4 linked regions of the Homo sapiens genome follow. The protein of the gene in region 1 binds, or shares a complex with, the protein of each later gene. Each region holds a gene or a part of one and is shown on either strand. Other genes may lie near its edges. The genes, in order: COA1, TIMM21, ACAD9 and CMC1.

Evidence for each region.
Region 2: COA1 (region 1) and TIMM21 share a complex: the UniProt entries of both Homo sapiens proteins name them as parts of the MITRAC (mitochondrial translation regulation assembly intermediate of cytochrome c oxidase complex) complex.
Region 3: COA1 (region 1) and ACAD9 share a complex: the UniProt entries of both Homo sapiens proteins name them as parts of the mitochondrial complex.
Region 4: COA1 (region 1) and CMC1 share a complex: the UniProt entries of both Homo sapiens proteins name them as parts of the MITRAC (mitochondrial translation regulation assembly intermediate of cytochrome c oxidase complex) complex.

The regions. Positions count from the first base shown.
Region 1 is NC_000007.14:43,642,304-43,650,072, forward strand, and holds part of COA1 (cytochrome c oxidase assembly factor 1 homolog), read right to left. Parts: exon of another isoform or gene 7,136-7,769; intron 6,350-7,135; 5' UTR 6,312-6,349; coding exon 6,297-6,311; intron 5,332-6,296; coding exon 5,232-5,331; coding exon of another isoform or gene 5,155-5,231; exon of another isoform or gene 4,169-5,154; intron 3,097-4,168; coding exon 2,948-3,096; exon of another isoform or gene 2,943-2,947; intron 1-2,942. UniProt on the Homo sapiens protein: Component of the MITRAC (mitochondrial translation regulation assembly intermediate of cytochrome c oxidase complex) complex, that regulates cytochrome c oxidase assembly.
Region 2 is NC_000018.10:74,158,507-74,161,784, forward strand, and holds the end of TIMM21 (mitochondrial import inner membrane translocase subunit Tim21 precursor), read left to right. Parts: 3' UTR 1-2,025; downstream 2,026-3,278. UniProt on the Homo sapiens protein: Participates in the translocation of transit peptide-containing proteins across the mitochondrial inner membrane.
Region 3 is NC_000003.12:128,882,620-128,890,388, reverse strand, and holds part of ACAD9 (complex I assembly factor ACAD9, mitochondrial), read right to left. Parts: intron 5,737-7,769; coding exon 5,643-5,736; intron 1-5,642. UniProt on the Homo sapiens protein: As part of the MCIA complex, primarily participates in the assembly of the mitochondrial complex I and therefore plays a role in oxidative phosphorylation.
Region 4 is NC_000003.12:28,320,850-28,325,642, forward strand, and holds the end of CMC1 (COX assembly mitochondrial protein homolog), read left to right. Parts: 3' UTR 1-3,192; coding exon of another isoform or gene 3,193-3,605; 3' UTR 3,606-4,293; downstream 4,294-4,793. Other genes in the region: AZI2 (5-azacytidine-induced protein 2), read right to left, coding at 3,193-3,605. UniProt on the Homo sapiens protein: Component of the MITRAC (mitochondrial translation regulation assembly intermediate of cytochrome c oxidase complex) complex, that regulates cytochrome c oxidase assembly.

The sequences.
Region 1 (7,769 bases):
GCCGGGCATGGTGGCGCACACCTATAGTCCCAGCTACTCAGGAGAGTGAGGCAGGAGAATCGCTTGAACCTGGGAGGTGGAGGCTGCAGTGTGCCAAGATCACACCACTGTACTCCAGCCTGGGTAACAGAGCAAGGTTCCATCTCAAGAAAAAATTTTAAAAAAGAACAAATTTTCAGGGTCCCACTGTTTGAGTCAAGCTACAGCTTTTCTCTGGAAATTATAGAATTAAGCAACAGAGTATACACTGAGCATCTCTGGATGCTTTAAAAAAAAATTTAAAAAGGAAGGAGAAAGAAATGGGCAGAAGCAAGAAGGATTCTGAAGAAGAGCAAACTCTGAGGGGCCAATGTCTGAACTGTGGGCAGCTGTGCTTCCATGGGTAGATGTGACACTTTACAGGTTGGTTCCTTCACCAGCCAGACCTTGCCAAAGATTAAAGCAGGAGTTCTGGTAAAGCAAAGTGTTGGTCACTGGTGACTATCTCACACACATACTTGGGAAAAAATCCCAATGTATGACAATTACTTCATGAACAACTGAAACATCTCACCTCTGGAAAAACTGTAAAAATTGCAAATAAAGGAATTTGGGATAAGAGGGCATATGCTGTATACAGGCATCCTCACAAACCGCTGATTATAAAGAAAGGACCCTGACAGAATGTCAAAAATAGTCCACAAATTGGAAGGCGTGCACTGAGGCTCCAGGTGGCCATGATGCAGCAGACTCTGAACTCCTGTCACTGCAGAGTCACAGCATTTGGCCGCAGTAGAAGCCAGAACCTAGCACCACAACCAACATAGTCACAGCATGGCCAAGGCCCCAGGGATGTGGGGAAGCCCAGGAAGGCGCCCTCTCAGCACCACTGGGGCCAAAGTGAAAGCTGGACAGGACAAAGCTCCCACCAAAACCACCATGGCCTTACCCTACTCTCACTGGGGTTCCTGGAGCACCAGATCATGGATGCTGCATCAACCAGCCCCAGCAAAGGCGCCTTTGGCACACAATTCCTCAGTGCTACAGCTGGGCTCTGTGCTGAGAGAAACGCAACAGCCAGACCTACCCAGTGGCTTTTCCAAGTTCTCAGGATTGCTGGGGTCTAGCCAAGTGACCAAAGGCAAGGAAGCAACAGACAGGCTCCGCCACACCATGGGAGCAATCCGGTGGCCTGGCACAGAGTGAGCACTCCACACATGCCCAGCCCTTCCCTGTGCTCCTCCTCCAGGATGTCCTCTCTCACGCAGTGTCGCTGCCGTCCTTCCACTCACGTCCATGCTGGACACTGGACCATCACCTCTGACCCACCCGCTCCTGATACATGACTGTTACCAAGTTCTGTCACTTGGATGCCACGATGGCTTCACATCCGTCTTTTGCTTCTCCAGGCCACACCTCTGGTTCATGCTCTCACCACTGCACACCAGTGTGGCCACATCTCTCTCCTAAAGATGGCTCCCCGTAGCCAGTCCCTGGGCATTACCAATCTACACAAATCCACCTTCTTTTAAAACCGAATATTTTAATCAGAATACCAGAGCATGAATTGCTTTTGTAGTTAGAAAAAAGTCTCATTAGAGCTGGGTCCATTAAGAACATACTAAAAATAACAAAAAATAATGTAGGTCGGATCACCTCACTCATCCTCCAAATACTTTACGGGCTTCTGCTGCCAGAGTCAAGCACACACCTTCCAAGATGACACTGTGGCCCCTGGTGGCCGCAGCCCCTCCTACCTGCCCACACCCACCTCGCCCACCTGTGCCTCCACTGCCGTATCACACTGACAGGCGACACAGTGATGAACTTTCCCAGGCATGCTGCTCCTCAGCCGGGTGTTCCTCTCCACCTTTCAAAGTCCTCACAGCCATCTCCCAGGCCTCGAGCCACTTCCCCTAGGCCTGCACAATAGTGACAGGGTTTCCCTCACCCTGTCTTACTCAGGAATTTTCAACTGTAAACCCCCAAAAGCCTTCTGCACCTCTATTCCCCACATAGCTTAGAATCATTTCTCAAACCAGAGCATATACTCAAAATATGTTTGTTAAACAGAACAAATGTGTTTTACATGCAAGTGAGTGTGATCAAGTACAAAAAGATAAGTTATAGCTAAAAAAATGGGTTGGTATTCTGTGGAAGCAATGTAAATAAATACACTTTAAAAATCAAAGTTTAAAGAGTTGGGTACATTTGAATGAGCACTGACTGGATATAGATGCATTTCTCTTTTTTTTTTAATTTTACAGACAATTTCACTCTGTCACCCAGGATGGAGTGCAGTGACATGATCATAACTCATTGCAGCCTCCAACTCCTGGGTTCAAGCGATCCTCCTGCTTCAGCCTCCTGGGTAGCTGGGATTATAGGTGTGCACTATCACGCCTGGCTAAATTATAGATAGATAGATTAGATAGATAGATAGATAGATAGATAGATAGATAGATAGATAGATAGATAGGCAGGCAGGCAGGCAGGCAGGCAGGCAGGCAGAGAGACAGAGAGAGAGAGAGAGAGAGAGAGAGAGAGAGAGACAGGGTCTTGCTGTGTTGCCCAGGCTGGTTTCAAACCCCAGGGCTCAAGCAATCCTCTTACCTCAGCCTCCCAAAGTGCTGAGAGCTATCAAAGCCAACATGGTAGCAAACCACCACTGGTCATTTCTCTACTACCTTCAATTCAAGATGGCGACATCAGCATACCCACTGCATTCCCTGCCACATCAATTCCCCAGAATGGAAGAAAAGTATACAGAAATATCTATAATATAAAATATATTTTATATAAACATTAAAATCCATAATAGAAAAACTTTTTTTAAAGGTGCCAAACCTAGCTTTACTTAGTGGATTTTCCCATCCCAAATCCTTAACTCCAGGACTTTCCAGGAGACAGTAGACTCTCCTCTCCTTCAGCAGGCACCAGCCTGCGGTTCGCAGGGAAAGCACATTACCTTGGCATCAACAATGTCCACGAAGTTTTCCCTGTCGATGAGCTTGAGATAATGGATGTTGAGAGGAGGGCCCAGAGCTTCCTGTGCCTCGGGATGGCTCTGCAGCTGCTCCACTGCCAACTTGTAATATAAAGCCCTGGAATGAAACTCTAAGGACGAAAGACACACTTATTTTCTTTATTGAACTTGGTCAGGTAGAATCTACTACACAGAAAATTAAATAATCCAACTGACGTACAGGGTAGAAACAGAAACGTGAAATCTGTGGATGGACGAATAATTAAGGCCATCTACTCTAAATTGTCCATTTTACAGACTCAAAAACCAAAGCACAGGCAGGCAGTGTTTTGCAGGGATGTGCAGATGACCTTGGGCCTTGACCTCATGCAGACCCTTTCTGCTTCACCTCATTTCTACCCTCACTCATTGCCTTATTTTGACACCTAAGAGGTTTGGTCAGCTCTTCTCTAAGTTTCCTCTCAAGTCTCTAAGTTTGCTCTAAAGTCCTACTATGATTCCATGACTTGTTCAAAGTGACACAGCTGGTCCATGGCAAAGCCGAGGCCAGAATCCATGATACCTGACTTCTCAACACTGCCTGTTCCACTAAGTTGAGACATAAAATAGAAAGACCACAACATTAACAACAAAACCCTCAGGCCTAGAAACAGGATATGAAAATGTTCATTCATCAAGATTTAAGCCAACATTTCAACTCAAACTGCTCTCAGTCTCAGGAATCCTTCTGAGCCCACAGGCTACCTGGGAACTCCGGGAAGCACCTCCCTGAAGCTGTAAGTTCTAATAATCAGCTGCCCAAAGGAGGGAGCAGAGGCAGGCTTCCCAAGCAGGGTGTTCAGTTTGGCCGCAGAAAGTGCTTCTCTTCTGAAGGTCCCATCACACTAATGAAGGGAAAGGTGACCTGACCCTGGAGAGGCCAAGGGAATCCCCCTCCTGGGCTGCTTCCCAGGAATAGGGATACAGGGAATACCACAGGCATGAACACGGTGCCAGCTATGATAGGAAAAGAAGGGACAGAAGCAGGGTCCAGACAGCTAATCTTTATTGAGTGATTTCTATGGCTAGGCACTGTTCTCAATATTCCACACATCTCACAATGTTCAACAGCTCTTGTGTTGTGAGATTCAATTCTCACCTCATACACAAGCACTAACATTACCACACATCACACCAATAAGGTAACTAATGCCCAGAAAGGTGACGGACTCCCCCATAAGGCCACATAGCTGGTCAAGAGCTGGAGCCGAGATTCAACCATTCAACCCAGGCAGTCGGCTGCAGTGCCCAGGTCTCACCGACTTAGCAGCCTCCTAAGGGAGAAAGGCTGTCACACCAGAAAGCTGAACCCTGACCCAAAAGTGCACCCATCCCTCTCATGTCCTGCCCCTGTCCCTTTGGCAGAGGGAAGAGGAGGCCAAATTATTCAGTCTGAATCATTCCTGGGAACGCTCATCTCAGGCCCCCTCCAGACTCTGCAACTCCACCAACTCTGCAGGATGGTGCAGAAAGGCTGGAGAGGACACTGGAGCCTGTCTGCTTGTCTGCTGGTGACACTCACATCCTGGGAAGAAGTGAAAATGTTGCAGAGTGGATGACGAGCCAAGCTGGGTGGGGATAAAGGAGCCTAAAAAAAGCCAGTCTAGAAAAAACTGCTGCCGCTTTGCCACCAGTAGCATTAAAATGACCTTAAATGTCCTGGCTGCTGACAGTAATTGTGGCCTGTCTTTACAAATTCAAATTTGAGTGCAGTGGGGCTGGAAGCGGCATCTGTCGGGATTTTGCCATCGTGGTCTCTGCTTTTATTTTCTGCCCCTGCCAGAGTTCCTTGCTCATGGTCCCTCCTCCATTAAATCAACAGCAGAGAATGAAAGTGCAAAAAAAGTCTGACAATGCTGGACGCACAGCCACAGCTTTCCCCACCTGTGAACCATCTGGTATTCCCCTTCCCTCTGTCCCTTCTTTATATAATCTCAGAATCTTGATGGAGCCCCTGTGTGTGCACTGGACTGAAAGCCCATCGTGCTTTGCTGGGCTTCTTATGCATATTAGTCCTGGTCCTTTTATTTGTACTCGTTGCTCCTGGAAAAACTGAGATTACAGGATACAGAGGAAGCTATAGCCAACGAAATGGTGGACTAGCCTTTAAAATCACCCTCTCCTCCTTTCTCTAATCTAAACAAAGCATCTCAAGTATTTCCTCTGATGGAGGAGCAGGAGCAGGCTAGGAGGAGGTCAGGCCGCAGGCGGCTAGCAGGATACTTACTTTGAATGAGGTAATACACAATGGCAAAGCCCCCGGCATAGAACACACCGTGGAAAAGGATCCTTGCTCCCAGAGGCATTGACCGCCTGCTTCCTGCATACTTAAAAACAAAAGATACAAATTTATTGTAGGATTCCCAGTTTTGTGCCAAGGGGATTTGCCCGGCTTGGACCCCTAAAGGAAAGAAGCATTAAGGAAGCCAGAAAGGAGGCCAGACCGCCCTCCCTCATTTGCTTCCTTTCCAAATGCCAGGGTTGGTTCTGAAGCCAAACTGAGTGCCCTCCTGAGGGTGCCCTCTCGAGAGTGGCCCATGTCCAGGACCCATGCTGTGGGGGCCCTGCCACCCCCAGCCAGCCCAGCACAGAGCGAGCATTCAGCCCACCATCCTGACAGACACAGCCCAGACTGTGTGCCAAGCCCCGCATGGCCAGGAAGCACAACCACTTTGTCTCAGGCCAACTGGTAAACAGGAAGCTTATCCTTTGTGGCAATGGCTGGTCCTGTAAGCCTGCGAATGGGCTGGAGCTGTCACTGGCTCCTTTCATATTTTGAAAAATGCACCACCCTTGGGATGAGGAAACTCTGGTTATGACTCAGGCTGAATGAACAGATGGAGGGATGCCAGCTCGGTAAATACAGCATACCATCCATCCACTCTTATAATATGTAAGAGTATCAAAATGAGTGTAAAGTTAATTACAGTAATGTGATCTGGGAAAAGTCATTTAGTTCTCATAATGAAAACGGTCAGAGCATCTCTGAAGAATGTATTAGTCAGATCTTGCTTAATTTGAAGAGAGCTCAACAGGGTGAGGCAGCCAGACTGGGTTATGGAGAGGTTCCCAGAGTGTTACAGCTTCCAACGCCAGCATGAGACACGAGAGAAAGACAGAGTGGGAAACAATGCAGAAAATGCCCATCCCTCCTGTGAAGTTAAAGCACAAGTGAACCCTAAAGACCAGGAGAAGCCCATAACTATTCAGGGAGTGACTTTCTTCTATTGTCTAACTCGAGAATACCCTGGCAGGTTCTAGTGGGGAACTTGGCCCTGGAACATTCCATTACCTTTTGCCACATCATAGCACAACTCTCTTGAAAATCATCAAAGGCAAGTTGTCCTGCAATTAGAAAAGATTTTACATTAAAATCATATTTTTAAAGCCCAGTTCTCTCTAGTCTCATACAGCCAAGATTTATTACCAACCCAAGCTTTAGAACACGAACAAGAAGTTAAAATTAAACTCTAAAACAAGCCTTGTCTGTGAAAGGCCCTGGTTTTTCCCCCTTCTGCTGCCAAATTAGGAAGAAAAAACAAAGCCTGCGGGTTTCCTGTCTGTGTCCTATGTAGTTTTTGTTACAGCAACCAAAGAACCGGTGTGCACAAGGGAGAACCGCAGACAGCAAGTGCTTTGACCACAGCACAAACACAGGGCCAATCAACAGGAGGCTGGACCTGCAGAAGCAAGATGCTAGCAATAAAAGCTGTACGTGACAGAGTGAAAACAGCACTTCAGAGTTAAAAAGAAACAATAGTACAGTAAACTTATACATGGACTTTAACAATATTGATAATACCTAATACTTCTGTCTCTGACTATTATGTGTCTTGTACTATTCTAAGCACTTTATATAATTCATTTAATTCTCACAACCCTTTGAAGTAGGAACTATTATCATCACGCTCATTTTGCAGATGAGTAAACTGAGGCACAGAAAGGTTAAGTAACATGCCCAAAGGTGCACTAATAAGTGAATAAGTGGTAGAACTGGGATTCAAATTCATGCAGTCTGGCTCCAGCATCTGCTCTTTCAACCACTGTGGTACACGAGCTTTAAGATATCTAATTAAAGCAATATTGAAATGTGAAAACAAACAGTGTCTCTGAGCTAAAATATATTCTTACTGTTCAGTGTAAAAGTCCTTGGCAGGCATGCCTTTCCTGCTATTTTTCCAGACAAGGTGGATACATATTTGTACCTTCATTCCTTCTTTTGTTTAGCAAACGGTTACTGAGGGTCTGATCTGGTCAGACAGTAAGAATATAAAAACAGTATCAAGATATAAGGAATTTTCCTTGGTCCTGAGGGGAATACAGACAATTAAACAAATAATTATAACATAGATCTATCACATGCAACTGCACGGCTATGCACTGCACAACCCTTGTAGGGCACCATGCACATTAGAGAAATCAAAGATTTGTATCTTTATTAAGACAGTTTGCCAACAGTTGGAAGTACTATAAAGTATCTTGAAGAAGGGATGGGGATGGTTGTCTTTTTCTAATTTGCACAAAGGTGCCTTTGGGCTAGCAGCAGCCTGGTTAGTGCAACCAGACATATGCACCAAGAGAGGAAGTAACACTCAGGAAGTGGTCAACCTTGCTGCAGGGCATCAGCGGAGGTTTCACAGAGGAAGTTTACCTTGAGAAGAGAAAGGTGAAAAGAGCAGAACAGCTTCAAATCCAGGAAATGACAAACAAAGGCAGAGTGAGCAGAAACAAGAACTGCTGAAGTGTAAAGCGCAGGAGAGAAGCC
Region 2 (3,278 bases), on another chromosome or scaffold:
GGCGTGGACTCGCTACTCCGTTCTTCACAGCTGCCTTCCAGAATGTGTTCAAAAGAAAGACAAGAAGGAGTGTATGGCTTATAAAGTGAATCTAATACAGTATTTGTTGCATTTAAACAAACTAGACATTTTCTTACGGAAAAATTATGAAATACAGCATATTTTATGTTCTCCCATTGACTCAATCATGACAATATTTCTGCTTTAACACCATCTTTCATGATTAGAAATGTTTGTTATTGGAAATGTTACACCATGTAAATAAAGGAAATAGATTTTAGTATTGTATTCATTTTATATTATAGAACTGCATAATGTCTGCAGAATAAAATTAAAACTAACAAATATGTCATTAGCAGCTGCCCTCCGCATACTTTGGAATCTGACTTGAGATAAGCATGTGAAAATGGTTGAGGGCCATAGGGAACCAGATGGTAAATACATTCTTCAAAATTGTGTGAGTTTTAGGAATCTGTCTCATATTTCGCGCTTCATGAATTAAGGGCCTAGTACATAGCGGGAAAAGTACACACTCCCAAGTTGGGTAGACCTGGGCACCCACCCCACCTTTTCTAGCAGGTGCGTGGTCAAGTGTCCCTGTTGTGTGGGTTGTTAGGATGGCAGTGTGATGAGAGGTACAAGCCTGGACCATAGAAGGCAGCCATGAAGTGCCCTCATCCCCTTTAGAACTTACTTGCACTGATACTTCTGACTGCCAAAAGAACATGGGAGTGAATGAGAGACATTCAAATACGTGTGTGAGGCCCCTTAAAGAAAAAAAAAAAAAAAAAGGAAATTCTATTTTATTTGAAATATTTGCTGGGGATTTGGAAAAAAGTGACCTTCACTTACAAGATCCTGATTCCATATCTATGTAAGTGCTATGTGCATTGGGAGGGGTCTAGAACCATGTTTATCTGCGGTGGCTTCAGTGTGAGGTATCCCCTCTGATGTGTTTGTTCCTTCTCCCCGAGAACTGTCTGTAGAGGAATTTCTGATGTGTTCTTGAAATTTTGGGATATTCAGGATAGAGAGACCTCCAGGCAATCTATCTCCCCTTTTTACTTTATCTCCCTGCTTAATTTAGTTAGTTTCTTGGTTTGACTGCTTGTTTTAGATGTTTTTAATTATAAAAATTTCCAACATTTAAGGAGTATAGAAAATATAACAGACACTCGTCTCCCTGACGTAACACACTTTGACTGAATGAGGCCTTAACTTAGGCTTTCTCTCCTAATCGTTTTTTCCTTTGCTATAGAATGTTCAGTTTCAGGATTCACTGAAATGTCAACATTTAACAGGCTGAGAAGTTCCACTTGCTATCCTAAACTCAAAAAAGCAGCCCTGCTCTTCAAACAACCTGCTCAAACTGTAGCTTGCTGAAGAAGCCCGGCATCTGAGCTCAGGTGGGGATTTAGCCACCCTCCATGGCCCTGTCATTTGACTTAAGACTGTTTGCTTTTTCTGTATTCATTTTTATGCACCTGCCATTTTACAATATGCTCATGCCCCTTTAAGATCTGAGCTTTTGGCCAGGCGAGGTGGCTCATGCCTATAATCCCAGCACTTTGGGAGGCTGAGGCAGGTCAATCACTGGAGGTCAGGAGTTCAAGACCAGCCTGGCCAACATGGTGAAACCCTATCTACTAAAAATTCAAAAAAAAAAAAATTAACCAGGCACGTTGACACACTCCTGTAATCTCATCTACTCAGGAGACAGGAGAAGCGCTTGAACCCAGGAGGCAGAGGTTGCAGTGAGCCAAGATCATGTCACTGCACTCCAGCATGAGTGACGGAGTGTGACTTCGTCTCAAAAAAAAAAAACAAAAAACAGATCTGAGCTTTTATAATTAGAAATAAAACTAAATTACTTTTTCAAAAGGAAAAACTCTGTACCAATAAGAGATTCTTCTGTATAGCCACAGGAAAATGTGATGTGTAACTCTCTAGATCTCTGTTTTCATTCCCTCTGATGTACCCTACTAAATGTTAAAATTTCTGTGTTTTAAGACCCTCTTTAATCCACTTTGATTGTGGTGTCTCTGTCCATGGGCTTACTCCCACTTTTTCTCTGAATTCTAGGGCACTTATCTGACTCTGCCTGGTATCCCCTTCCGTCATATTTGTGAATTTGCAAATGCTCTGGTCATTTTCCTCCAAGGCCTCTGTCATTCCTCCACACCTGATCAGTGAACTCTTTTCACAACTAACTCTAGAGCAGACTCTCCTGTCACTGTTTGCTCTTCCTCCTTAATGAAGAAATTATATGCAAGGCAAGAGTTTATCAGAAGTTCTGCTTTTAGCCCCGTGAGATTTCCAGCCTAACTACCCTGCAAGCTCCCTTCATAACTATTGTTGATCAATGCTAGTAATACTTTATCCATTTATTTCCATTTGGTAAGCCATTACAATATTACTTCTGTTTCTCTTATTCTCATCCAGAGACAGTTCCCCAATTCCTAATTCATAGATTTCTACTCAGGGTTACACTTACTATTTATTTTATATAGTACCACTCATGTGTTCCATCTGTTAGATTTCATGCAACATATTGATTAAGGGTATGCTATATGTCAGACTAGAGTCGTCTAGTGCCACGGAAAAGCTTGCGGGCGGGGTGTGGAGTGCAGGGGCCAGGTATATCGTGTGACAGTGTTAAGGTTTTGATCCTGTAGGCCCTGAAGAGCATCACAGGAATCTGAGTGGGAATTAAGCTGCTGTATCTGTATTTAGAAGTGGTAGTTGTGTGCAGGATGGCTTGCATTTGGCAGAAGCCAGGTAGAGGTTACCGTAATAGTTGAGATGAGAGAGGATAAAGCTAGAGAGGAGGTAGTACATTTGAGAAATGTGTGAGGCTGGGGGAAGGACAGGACTTTGTGACCAAGTGCATGTGGGAAGTCACGGTGAGGAGTCGAGAATAACTCAGGCCTCTGACCGTTAAAATCCGGAGTCACACGGGGAGGAGTCGAGAATAACTCAGGGCTCTGACCGTTAAAATCCGGAGTCACACGGGGAGGAGTCGAGAATAACTCAGGCCTCTGACTGTGTTAAAATCCGGAGTCACACAGCGGGAGCAGTCGAGAATAACTCAGGCCTCTGATCGACTGTTAAAATCCAGGACAGGATGGGTCATGAGCAGAAAACAGTCAGTTCTACATTGAGCTCAAGGTACATCAGTCAGCCAGGTGAAGGCCTAGAAGCAACAGGTTTCTCAAGTCTGGCGCTCAGGATGCTGTCTGAACTGGACGAGATTAGGAGTGGCCTGCAGAGAGGAAGCA
Region 3 (7,769 bases), on another chromosome or scaffold:
CCAGGCTGGGCGAGGTGGCTCTCACCTGTAATCCGAGCACTATGGGAGGCCGAGTCGGGCAGATCACCTGAGGTCAGGAGTTCGAGATTGGCCTGGCCAACATGGTGAAGCCCCTTCTCTACTCAAAATACCAAAAATTAGCCAGATGTGGTGGCACGCACCTATAATCTCAGCTACTCGGGAGGCTGAGGCAGAATCGCTTGAACCTGGGAGATGGAGGTTGCAGTGAGTCGAGATGGCATCTCAAAAAAAAAGGAAATACAGGCCAGGCGCAGTGGTTCATACCTGTAATCCCAACACTTTAAGAGGCTGAGGTAGGAAGATCACCTGAGCCCAGGAGTCTGAGACCAGCCTGAATAACATAGTGAGAACCCATTTCTACAAAAAACTTTAAGAATTATTAGCTGGGCATGGTAGCGTGTGCCTGTAGTCTTAGCTATGCGGGAGGCTGAGGCAGAGGATGGCTTGAGCCCAGAAGTTCAAGGGTTGCAGTGAGCTATGATCACACCACTGCACTCCAGCCCAGGCAACAAAGAAAGACCCTGTCTCTTAAAAAAAGAAAAAGAGGAAAAAAGGAATGTTTATGGCAACTTTTTTGGTGATAGCTAAAATCTGGATACATACCCTATGTTGATGAATACTTGAATGGATAAACAAATCTTGGTATATCCATAGAAAGAAATATGACTCAGCATTAAAAAGGAAGCCACTACCAATACATGCACCATGGATGAAATTCAAAATTATGCAGAAAGAAGCCAGACAAAATCACACATAATATAATTCCAAAAAATACGAACTAATCTATAGTGAGAGAAAACAGATCAGCAGTTGCCTGGAAACAGGGGGGAAATAAAAGAGGCACAAGGAAACTTTGACGGGTAATGAGTACGTTCACTTCCTCTGTTGCACTGATGGCTCCTGAGGGGTACTCTCTAAATACAGTCATGCGTCAGGTGATTCTCTCCCTGTATGAACATCAGAATGGACTTACACAACCTAGGTGGCAGAGCCTACTACACACCTAGGCTATATGGTATGGCTTATTGCTCCTAGGCTGCAAACCTGTACAGTAGGCCGGGCGTGGTGTCTCATGCCTATAATCCCAGCACTTTGGAAGGCTGAGGCGGGAGGATCACTTGAGCCCAGGAGTTGGAAACCAGCCTGGGCAACACAGTGAAACCCCATCTCACTGTTAAATATTTTTTGTTTTTTTTTTTTTAAGGAAAACAAAACAAAACAAAAAAGCTGTACAGCATATTACTGTGCTGAACACTGTAGGCAACTGTAACACAATGGTAAGTATTTGTGTATATGAACACAGCTAAACATAGAAAAGATACAGTAGAAATATGGTATGATGATCTTATGGGATCACCACTGTATATATGGTCTGTCATTGACTTGAATGTCATTATGTGTCACATGACAGTGTGTGCAATTTATTGTAAATCAATTATTCCTTAATTAAACCTGAAAAAAAAAAAAACCTGACAAACCACATAGGAAAAGTTTAAATAAAAGAACAAGAGACTATGGGAGCTAAAAAAAGATACAAATAGGAAGATAAACACTAGGAAAAAAAGCAGAAATAAGTATTTCTAAATTATAAATTATGTTTATATATAAATAAGCAACTTTTAAAACTAGCAACATATAATTTGTGATCACCAGGTGTGAAATAAGAAACAAACAAAAACCAAGCAATGTAATGACAGCTGACAATTTGGCACTTCTCAAAGAGGTTCTGGGGGACCTGAGCTGCTTCTAGGGGGTCCCACAGGATCAAAACTAGTTTTTATTTTTTTTTGAGATGGAGTCTCACTCTGTCACCCAGGCTGAAGTGCAGTGGCGCCATCCCAGCTCAATACAACCTCCACCTCCCGGGTTCCAGTGATTCTCCTGCCTCGGCCTCCCCAGTAGCTGGGATTACAGGTGGGCACCAACACACCTGGTTAATTTTTATATTTTTAGTAGAGACAGGGTTTCACTATGTTGGCCAGGCTGGTCTCAAACTCCTGACCTCAAGTGATCCACCCACGTCGGCCTCCCAAAGCGCTGGGATTGCAGGCATGAGCCACCATACCTGGCCTAAAACTACTTAAGATGTTACTTGCTTTTAAATTCTAATTCTCTGAAGACTGTACAGTGGGGCGCAGTGTAGTGTATTTAACGTTTTGGCTCAGAGTCCAATATATAGTCCAAAGTACCATGTTCCCAGAATTTATGTACGGCCTTTATATGAATAAATCTTGATCAAGGATTCAGAAAAAAGTCTTAGGTTTGCATATAAGTCACTCAAAGCAGTAAAACAGGCTACTTGGATTTCCAGCAATATTTGTGCTTTTATTCTTGGCCATTACTTTTGGGGAAGGGTTGTCTGTCCTGGTTGGTTTTCATAGAGGCCAGTTGTGGGAGGATGTGATTTTTCTGTGTCTCCAGATGACAGTGCCTCTATTTCCGTGGCACTGCTGGCTGCCTACAGCTGTCATTCCAGAGGGCCCTTTGTCCACAGTGATTAGCCTCCTCTTTGAATGTACATGAAATAGGTGTATTTTTGTATGTTCTTTTCTCTGCTTTGCCCTTGGATTTAACTTCCTTTTTGAATTCACATCATGGCAGCTGAATGAACATAGTTTTTATTCCAGCATTTGCTATTTATTCCAAGAGACCTTTGTTCCTGTGAGAGGGAGTGGGTTTGGTTTGCAGTGGTTTCTTGCATATATATATATATATATATATATTTATTTATTTTTTTATTTTTATTTTTATTTTTTTTTGAGACAGGGTCTCACTCCTGTCGCCCAGGCTGGAGCTCAATGGCATGAACACAGCTGACTACAGCCTTGACTTCCCAGGCTTGGGTACCTTCTCCCACCTCAGACTCCCAAGTAGCTGGGACTATGGGCGCGCACCACCATGCCCGGCTAATATTTTAAATTTTTAGTAGAGACAGGGTTTCGCTCCATTGCCTAGGCTGGTCTCAAACTCTGGGACTCAAGCAATCTGCCCCCCTCAGTCTTCCACAGTGCTAAGATTACCAGTGTGAGCCACCGTGCCCAGCCGGTTTCTTATATATTTACATCTCTGCAAATACAAAGATGACAGTTATTGCTGACAGAGCCCTATGTCCTGGAAGTGTGTGTTTCTTGCTTTAAATGCACGTGTCAGGACAGGTGCGGTGGCTGACACCTGTAATCCCAGCACTTTGGATTACAGGCAGATCATTTGAGGTCAGGAGTTCAAGACCAGCCTGGCCAACATGGTGAAACCCCATCTCTACTGAAAATACAAAAATTAGCCAGGCGTGGCGGTGCGTGCTATAATTCCAGCTACTCAGGAAGCTGAGGCATGAGAATCACTTCAACTGCAGAGGTTGCAGTGAGCTGAGGTCGTACCACTGCACTCCAGCCTGGGTGACAAAGCAAGAGCAAGACTGTCTCAGAAACAAACAAACAAAAAGCATGTCTGAAGATTATAAAAAAAGACAGTTAAAAAAAAAAAAAGACTGCACAGTGGACTTTTCCAGAGGTTACGTGCACAAACAGGTATGAGAATCCAGCTGTCTTCTAATAAGCCAAACATTAAAAGGACTTGCATAACTTTCAACCAATGTCACTCTTTCCATCAATTTTTTTCTTTTTTTTTTTTTAACTTACTTTTCTTTTTTTTTTCTTTTTGAGACAGAGTTTCACTCTTATTGCCCATGCTGGAGTGCAGTGGCGCGATCTCGGCTCACCGCAACCTCCGCCTCCCAGGTTCCAGCGATTCTCCTGCCTCAGCCTCCTGAGTAGCTGGGATTACAGGCATGTACCACCACGCCCAGCTAATTTTGTATTTTTAGTAGAGATGAGGTTTCTCCATGTTGGTCAGGCTGGTATCGAACTCCCGACCTCAGGTGATCCACCCACCTCAGTCTCCGTAAGTGCTGGGATTACAGGTGTGAGCCACCGCGCCTGGCCTGATTATTTTTCAAAATATTTTTCATTAGCTGGCGCGGTGGCTCACGCCTGTAATCCCAGCACTTGGGGAGGCTGAGGAAGGCAGATCATGAGGTCAGGAGTTCAAGACCAACCTGGCCAACATAGTGAAACCCCATCTCTACTAAAAATACAAAAATTACCCGGGCGTGGTGGTGCATGCCTGCAGTCCCAGATACTTGGGAGGCTGAGGCAGGAGAATCACTTGAACCTGGGAGGTAGAGGTTGCAGTGAGTCGAGATTGCACCACTGCACTCCAGCCTGGGTGACAGAGTGAGACTCTGTCTCGGAAAAACAAAAACAAAATATTTTTCATTAAAAATATTATGTTAACATGTAATGGATTTATTATTTTTAAACAAATGAACACAGTATATTTTATTTTTTTTTTTTAGACAAAGTCACACTCTGTCACCCAGGCTGGAGTGCAGTGGTGCAATGTTGGCTCACTACAATCTCTGCCTCCTGGGTTCAAGCAATTCGCCTGCTTCAGCCTCCTGAATAGCCGGGATTACAGGCACCCGCCACCATGCCCGGCCAATTTTTGTATTTTTAGTAGAGACAGGGTTTCACCATGTTGGCTACGCTGGTCTTGAACTCCAGACCTCAGGTGATCTGTCCCCGTTGGCCTCCCAAAGTGCTGGGATTACAGGCGTGAGCCACTGCACCCAGCCCCACAGTATATTTTAAATTTCTCAGTTTTAATTTCTAAGAGGGGCTAGGCATGGTGGCTCACACCTGTAATCCCAGCCCTTTGGGAGGCCAAGGTGGGAGGATCACTTGAGCCTAGGAGTAGAGACCAGCCTGGGCAATATAGTGAGAACCTGTCTCTATGAAAAATACAAAAAAATTAGCTGGGCATGGGGGTGCGCACCTGTAGTTCCAGCAACTCAGGAGGCTGAAGTTGGGGGACTGTTTGAGCCTGAAAGATGGAGGTGGTGGTGAGATGAGATGGTACCACCACACTCCAGTCTGAGCAACAGAGCTAGGCCCTTTCTCAAAAAAATAAAGTAAAATAAAAATAAAATAACCCCTAAGATGGCAAATATTGATAGATAAAATTCATATAAACAAAAGCTCTCCAGGATCCTACTATTAGGGAAGACCTGCTGTCCATCCACCATCACTGAACTCTCCACCAAGGCCCTGGCTGGAGGACCGGCCAACAGCTCTGAGAGAGGGACCTGAGGTCAAATGCTGCCTCACCATGCAGGTGCCAAACTGTGGCTGGTCCACAAATCACTCTTTGTTTACAATTACCAAAGTACAGAAATTGAAACTCAACCTTTAGAAACACTAAGAGCAACTGTACACTGCCACAACAACCAACACATGCTCCATGGGCTTGTATGGTGTGTGGCCTTGGCTTTTTGCCATCTAATTTTTTTAGTTATTCATTTTTATTATAGCTTTATGGAAGTGTTGACCTGGAACAGTATGGAAATGTTTAAAGTGCTCCTGAACCACAAATACAATGAGAAGCATTTAACTGGATGTTTTTTAATTAAATGGCAATAGGGATGAAACCTAAAGCAAAATATTATGAGTGGAAACCATTTCTCCCTCAAGAAGACTTCTCCTATGTATGTCACTTCTAATATAAATATCAACCAAATAGCCCTTACAATGGAAATCGGCAATGGTAAAGAAAACCATACATACCCTCTTCAGTGAAGAATTTTTCCACGGGTCCCAAGAACTGATTGATTTCATTAAGTTCATCTTGGCTAACTTCTGGAAATGGGAAAACTTCTTTCTAAAAATAGTAAATATTTTCTAAAAAATTTAATTTTTAGCACACTCCCATCACGGAAATATCAGTTAAAAGGGAAGGAAAAACATGTGCTCCACTCCACCCTGGCCAGCGGGACATGACGTACTGAAGGAACTGGAAAGCAAACCTCACAAGGTTCCTGAGATACAGAAACTATGTGCAGGCTCCACCACCCACATCCATCTCCCTCCCCTGTTCAAATAGGTTCTTCCCGATTTTCATCAGTTTTCCTTCTCAGTACAAGGGATGATAATAGTCCCATGAAACAAGGAGCCCAAGACTAACATTTAGAAGCCTGGGGGTCTGGTCCTTGATTTCAGGCTTACTCATTATGTGGCCTTCACCAAATCCCTTCAGCTCTCTAAACTACCCCTTTCTCACCCATAACATGCAGGTAATATTTACTCAAGGCCCTTGTGAGAATCGTGGAAGATAGTGGATGTGGAAACTCCTTACTGAAATGGACAATTCTACATCAATTATTGTGTGAGCTCAAAGATGCTATGCTGACAAGAGCACATCATGCTTACCAAGTCTCATCGATCCCTACAGCCGCTGTCTCTCCTGCTCACAGACATCTGCTCCCTGTGCTGAGCCCCTCTGGACTTTTGGGCTCTGCTACCCCTTCAATTGCCAGCATGACATGAGCTTTGGATGTGGGCTTCAGGCTGTTGAGCAGTGATGTCCTGAGTCAGAGCTATAAGCCCAAGCATCACCTGTCCTCATGGCGCCTCTCACCAAGTGTTCTAGAGAAGTCTTGGGGAGACCTCAACCTTCTCCTCAGACCTTGTACAGCTAATCAGCCAACAGATTTCTCTACTCTATCAATATGCTCGCACTGCTTTCTCCTCTCTGGGCCCAGGACCACAGGCTTATAGGTGAGTCCCTAACTAAAAGTGACAGCCAACTTAAAGGAATCCCTGCCTCCATCCATTCCAAAACCACCCTGAAGGTGGTATAGAAAAAAAAAAAGGTTGGAGGCCAGGCACGGTGGCTCACGCCTGTAATCCCAGCACTTTGGGAGGCCGAGGCGGGCGGATCACGAGGTCAGGAGTTTGAGACCAGCCTGACCAACATGGTGAAACCCCGTTTCTACTAAAAATACAAAAATTACACGGGCTTGGTAGCACGCGCCTGTAATCCCAGCTACTCAGGAGGCTGAGGCAGGAGAATTGCTTGAACCCGGGAGGTGGAGGTTGCAGTGAGCCGAGATTGCGCCATTGCACTCCAGCCTAGGTGACAGAGTGAGACTCCATAAAAAAAAAAGAAAAGAAAAAGAAAAAAACAAGCTTAGCTGGTTGCAGTGGCTACTGCCTGTAATCCTAGTCCTTTGGGAAGCTGACGCAGGGGGATTGCTTAAAGCCCAGGAGTTCAAAACCAGCCTGGGCGTGGTTGCACACGCCTGTAGTTCCAGCTACTCAGGAGGCTGAGGTGGGAGGATCCCCTGAGCCTGGGGAGGTTGAGGCTGCAGTGAGCTGTGATTGCACCACTGCACTCCAGGGTGGGCAACAGAGTAAGACACTGTCTCAAGGAAAAAAAAAACAAGAAAAAAAAAAAAAAACAAGCTGATGGCTCCATCACTCTGCAGCCTTTTATATCAAAGCTCAGTCTCCTTCACTGAACACAGAGGCTCACTGACACTTGGGTCTTGTGCAATGGGCTGTGTTAGAGATCATTCTGGTACCAGTGGGCAGGCCAGATAAGACTGCCTGGCAACTAATTGGCCTTCAGGTACAACCACAGAAAACCTGCCACACAGGAGAGATTGCAGGGGCGTGGGAGAAAGATCCTGATGTTATCAAATCAGGTCAATGCCTTAGGGGAGGAGAGTTCAATTGCAATAAACAGTTTGTAAATTATCTAAAAAAGTGGAACCTGTTATTCAAAGAAATCTAGTGCAGAAACCAAATATGTAAAACAGACAGAAGCAGGCGGCTCTGACTGAGACTGCTGATAGGGAAAACAGGCACCCAAATCCCACCCACTCAACTTCCCACCCATCCCTGCAGCAGTTC
Region 4 (4,793 bases), on another chromosome or scaffold:
TCCACAGCCATTGTAACTAGTTTCAAGATAAGTAAATTTTACGTATATTTTCACAGTCCTCATTAAAATCACAAATAGAAATTACTACCCACTAAGACAAGGTTTAACTTTCCCTAATCCCATGCAATAGATCTGAGAGATTTTTTTTTAAGAAAGAATTTAAATAGGACACTAAAGAATCAATTCAAGTTCCACACTTTACTCTTGAGTGAACCACTCAAAAAACTATTTTACTTTTATTTGAAATACAAAGAAACCACATTTTCCCAGGCCACAGATCAAAAGGAGGGAGATTACTAGAGCAGACAAAAGCAAAGCAAATATAGAAATCTAGAGACCACACAGCATAGGGGCAAACATGCCCATATTTCCACATTGACCTTTGGTATTGGTGCATTTCCTAGAGCACAGGAAGTTAACTGTTTTTAGAGATAAATGAAAATGGAAGAGTTACTTTAAGAAGCTAGTGAAATATACAATCTATTTTATAGCTTTGATTAAAATCAGAAGTAGCCCACTTCATGTAGAAAATTCACTTATGTACATGTTGCTTTCCCCATAGAAGCCAGATTAGATTACACAGTATAAATAATATGTTCATCCTCCTTATGTCAAAGACTAAACCATTCATTGTAGCCTTCAGAATACCCATGTGTATCCATACTGAAGATTTTTTTCACCTGGTACATCTGTCTCAGTTGTGTCTTGCTTGCTTATGGGTGCCTCTGTTGATATTATTCCCTGTTAATATGTGGTAACCCACAGGTTTTTTACCCCTTAAGATACACCTTCTCCAAGTAGCCTTTCTGAATTAAGATCAGTACTTTGTTGTCACATGATTCAGCTCTTCAAGTCTGAATTTTCCCATTTATTTTGGTTTTCTAATGTTTCACATAGGCATGTTCCTGCTTTTAAGAATTCAGTTCCATTTTGGCAGCAACTCAGTAAGTCTTACAGATGTAAATTTTACTTTAGCTAATAAGGGAGCAAGAGGAAGGAATAGGTGGCTTTTTGTTATGTTTTCTTCATTCTGTCGATTTATGGATGTACTGAATTGAACCTTATAAAAAGAAATCTAAAGATTCCAAAGGAAGCTCTTTAGAGCAAGTTTCAGCTAGTATGAAAGAAGTCAACATAAAATATTCAATTTTAAATAGATTCATAAGCTACAGATGGGCCACTGTTTTTTGGTTGTTTGAATTTTACCTAGAACAGAGATATCAAGTGTAGATTTAAAAGCTTCTAGCTGGGTAAAAAATTTTTGGCTAATCTTTCCTTACTAAAGAACCTTATACATCATTTGTCTAACACTTTAAACTGTCACAGTCACTGACTTTTTAGTATACCTGTTTGATAGCTATCATCACTGTACTGTTTAAATGGAAAATAATTTTCTCCACTCAAAAGCTGGTTTAACAAATGTCTATTGTATGAATCATATTAACAACCAACAATTAGTACTAGATTTTGAGATCTATAGGCAAGGACAATATTTCACATCCACTTCAATTTCAAACAAAAATATTTATTTTAATTAAACAATTTCTTGGTATTGTTCAAAACATTAATCAAGCAATTATCTCATAAGACTTTTTTTCTTTACAAAGGAAAATTTCCAATTTTGGTTTTAAAAAAGGCAAACCAGTAAGCTACATTAGAGATCAGATATAATATACAGCCTATGCAGCCACATGAGAAATAGTTTTTGCTGCTTTGTTATTACACAGGTAGTTGCTTCCTTCAGCTAAAGCCTGGAGTATTGTATTTCTTTTATGCATATTGGGTTTGGTTCTATTACTTGGCAGGAGATTGTACTCCCCTGAGTCAGCTGTGTTCATTGGTCAGAATAAATTCCAGCATCTGACACCAATTCCATTAATCACAGACAAGCTTGAATAAGTGTAAGATAATAGAAAAAAATATCTAGTGAATGGCGAACATTGTCTATGTATGTATGCTATTCAGTAATACAGTAGAAGAGATCTGAGATATTGAGTTCAAGATATATGAAACTGTCTATCAAAAAGGATAAAAGTCCTCCTACATGAAATACTTTAATTCAGGCAAAAGGTGTATGAACCAAGTAAATCTCCACCCTGAAAGAACTTAAATTTCCATGTGAAGCCATCTTTATTTCCTTCTTTATTTCCAAATAATTGGCCACTTAGAATAAGTGTGGACATTTCATGATCGACAATATCAATACAGCCCAAACCCTGATTTCTATGATTAAAAATAATAATTTTAAATCACTTTCTCAATAAATAGAATATTACATTTCAACACAAAGTCTAACAATTTAGAAGCTGCTCTACACAATGTGCAGCTAGCTGTAGTCTCTTTGAAGAAAATGACTTTTTATCATTACACACATTTATGTTTATATTATGGCCCACAGAAGGGCAGATTAGACTGAAATCTGTGTGATGCTCCTTCTACTACTTATTGAATAGTGTGTAGGGTTACAATCATTTGTTTACACCCCAGAGTTTTTCAACTATTTCATTTTTTTTTTTTTTTTTCCCAATTAGGACTTAAGGAATGTGCTGGGACAAAGTTGGCTTCAGTGATCAGGTTGTTTCAAGTCTTAGAATTCAAACTTCAATTCTAAAAAAATTTTATCAACAAAACACTGTGACCAAAAAATCACTTTAAATCTTAAATATTGAAACGCAATAGCATATAAAGATGGTATAACCTAAGATGCTTTTATTTCATTATATTTTCAATATCTTTACGCATTATAACAACAGAAATGTAACCTACTCACATTGCCATTTGTTCCATTATGCAATTTGAAGAAACATGTTTTCCTTTTATTTTTATGAACAGATATTTAGACATTTCACATTTTGTAAAACCACGTCTACAATCTCCAATTCCATTCTTCTGAGAGGCAAAATTTTACAATTAATATAGAAGGCAGAGTTTTTTAAACACCTTAAGTTTACTTATTAATTAGTATAGTAGCATATTTCAGATTCTTAGAATATGGAGCTAGAGGGTGCTCTTTCATACTAGAAAACCAACTATGTTGGTTTTTGTACTATTGTACAGTGTGTTCAAATATAGATACTGAAGACCTCTGCAAAATTTTAATCAAAATCTCCTTTCAGTTTGTTAAATAATTTCTTGGGAGGACCACTGAAAGAGATAAGTGTCCTCATGGTGAAATCGTGAATCTCTTCCAAATTAATTCTTATAAAGGCAGTTCTGATTATGTTGATCCAAGTAATGCAGTGGTGGAAGGTTGGGTAAAGGCAAAGTTTTAGTTTTAGTTTCCCCAAATGCTGTCTCACTTGATTTAGGAGGACTTGGAAATACCCAGGAATTGTCTTCCAGAGAATTTCTGCCATAAGAACTGTGTTCCTGAAAGCATGTACCATCATTAGGAATGGATCTCTCATTGTCTGTCCATGATTGGAGGATTGCTTTCTCTGATAAAACCTTTACATCTCCTGGTAAAGGGGAAGATGTGGTATGACAAAGAGCTTTGCCATTTGGTAAGAGAGGGGGATGTCTTGTGTATGTTGCAGTAAAATTCATCAAGTGCAGTTTTGTGCTGTCTCTTCCAAGGTCTTCACTGCATCCTACAGGGGCACAGGCTAAAAAGAAAACACAGACTAAATGTCAGTTTTCATTACATTTGTGATCATAAAATTCGATAACACTTCACCAATTTGAATTCTAGAACTGGTGATGAAATTAAGATTTCCAAGTTAGTGTGATCATTGAGGCACTGTGACTAGGAGATAAATGACAGATGATCTGAGTTTTAATCCTGGATCAGCAATTTACTGTGACTTTAGATATTTGTCTCTTAGCTGCTCCTGATGTCTCTTTCCTTGTCTGCAGAATGGATATAGAATTCCTGTCCCAACTATGTCATAGAGCTTTTAAAAGATGAAGAACTACATATTTTTAAAAGTTGGAAACTAATACAGTTAAAATACAAATAAAGATCCTGTTCTTGGCTCTTATTGTGGCTGGAGAAGGATTGCAGACTGTTCACATGTCAGTGGGGACTGAGACAGTTCTTAAGTTTTAGCATTTTTTAGTTAAATATAATATTCCTTTGCTCAAACTCTTTGTCCACAGGCAGTCCAAAAGCAAATTTTTTAGAAATAATTGCATTTTTAATTGGTGAGACCCAAATGAAGTTTTTATATATCAAAGGCTTTTATGGATAAAGCAGTTTAAATAAAATTTGTGAAATCTTGTTTCTTGTAAAACACAGCAAATGTTAATGCTACTGTGGTCACAATGTAGGTAAAGTAAAAAAAAAAAAAAAAACAGCCAAAAAAAAAAAGTTTTGTACAAATGCAATGGCCTAGAAAAAGACTACTTAAAAGCTATTATTTCACCACAGCCAGCACATTGGTAATACAGGTTTCTCCACTCCCTCCAGCTCAGCCTACCAGTGTGGAAAGGTAAGTTTATCCTTAGCTCAAGAAGGATGGCCAAGTGTAACTAAGGCTTGACTTCATGTAATTTTAGAAGAAACAGATTGAACGACATTATAAAATAAGTTCATTGTTTTTCCTGGGAGGGTGGATATGGATGGAGGAGAACTGGAAGTGTAGTGTTTGGCTTTGGAAAAAAGGTGATACAAAGGTCAGGAGAAAGGTGGTTCTAGTCTCATCTCTGTACTCCTCAAAGCAATGAGTTCTGTGTAAGGAGTGGTGACCTTGAGCCTACCACTGTCATAGGAAAAGTGCTAGAAAACTTATGTTCCAAAGCACCGAAAAATATTAATCAGCTAGGAAGGAACACAAGGATGAGCCATGTCCAAG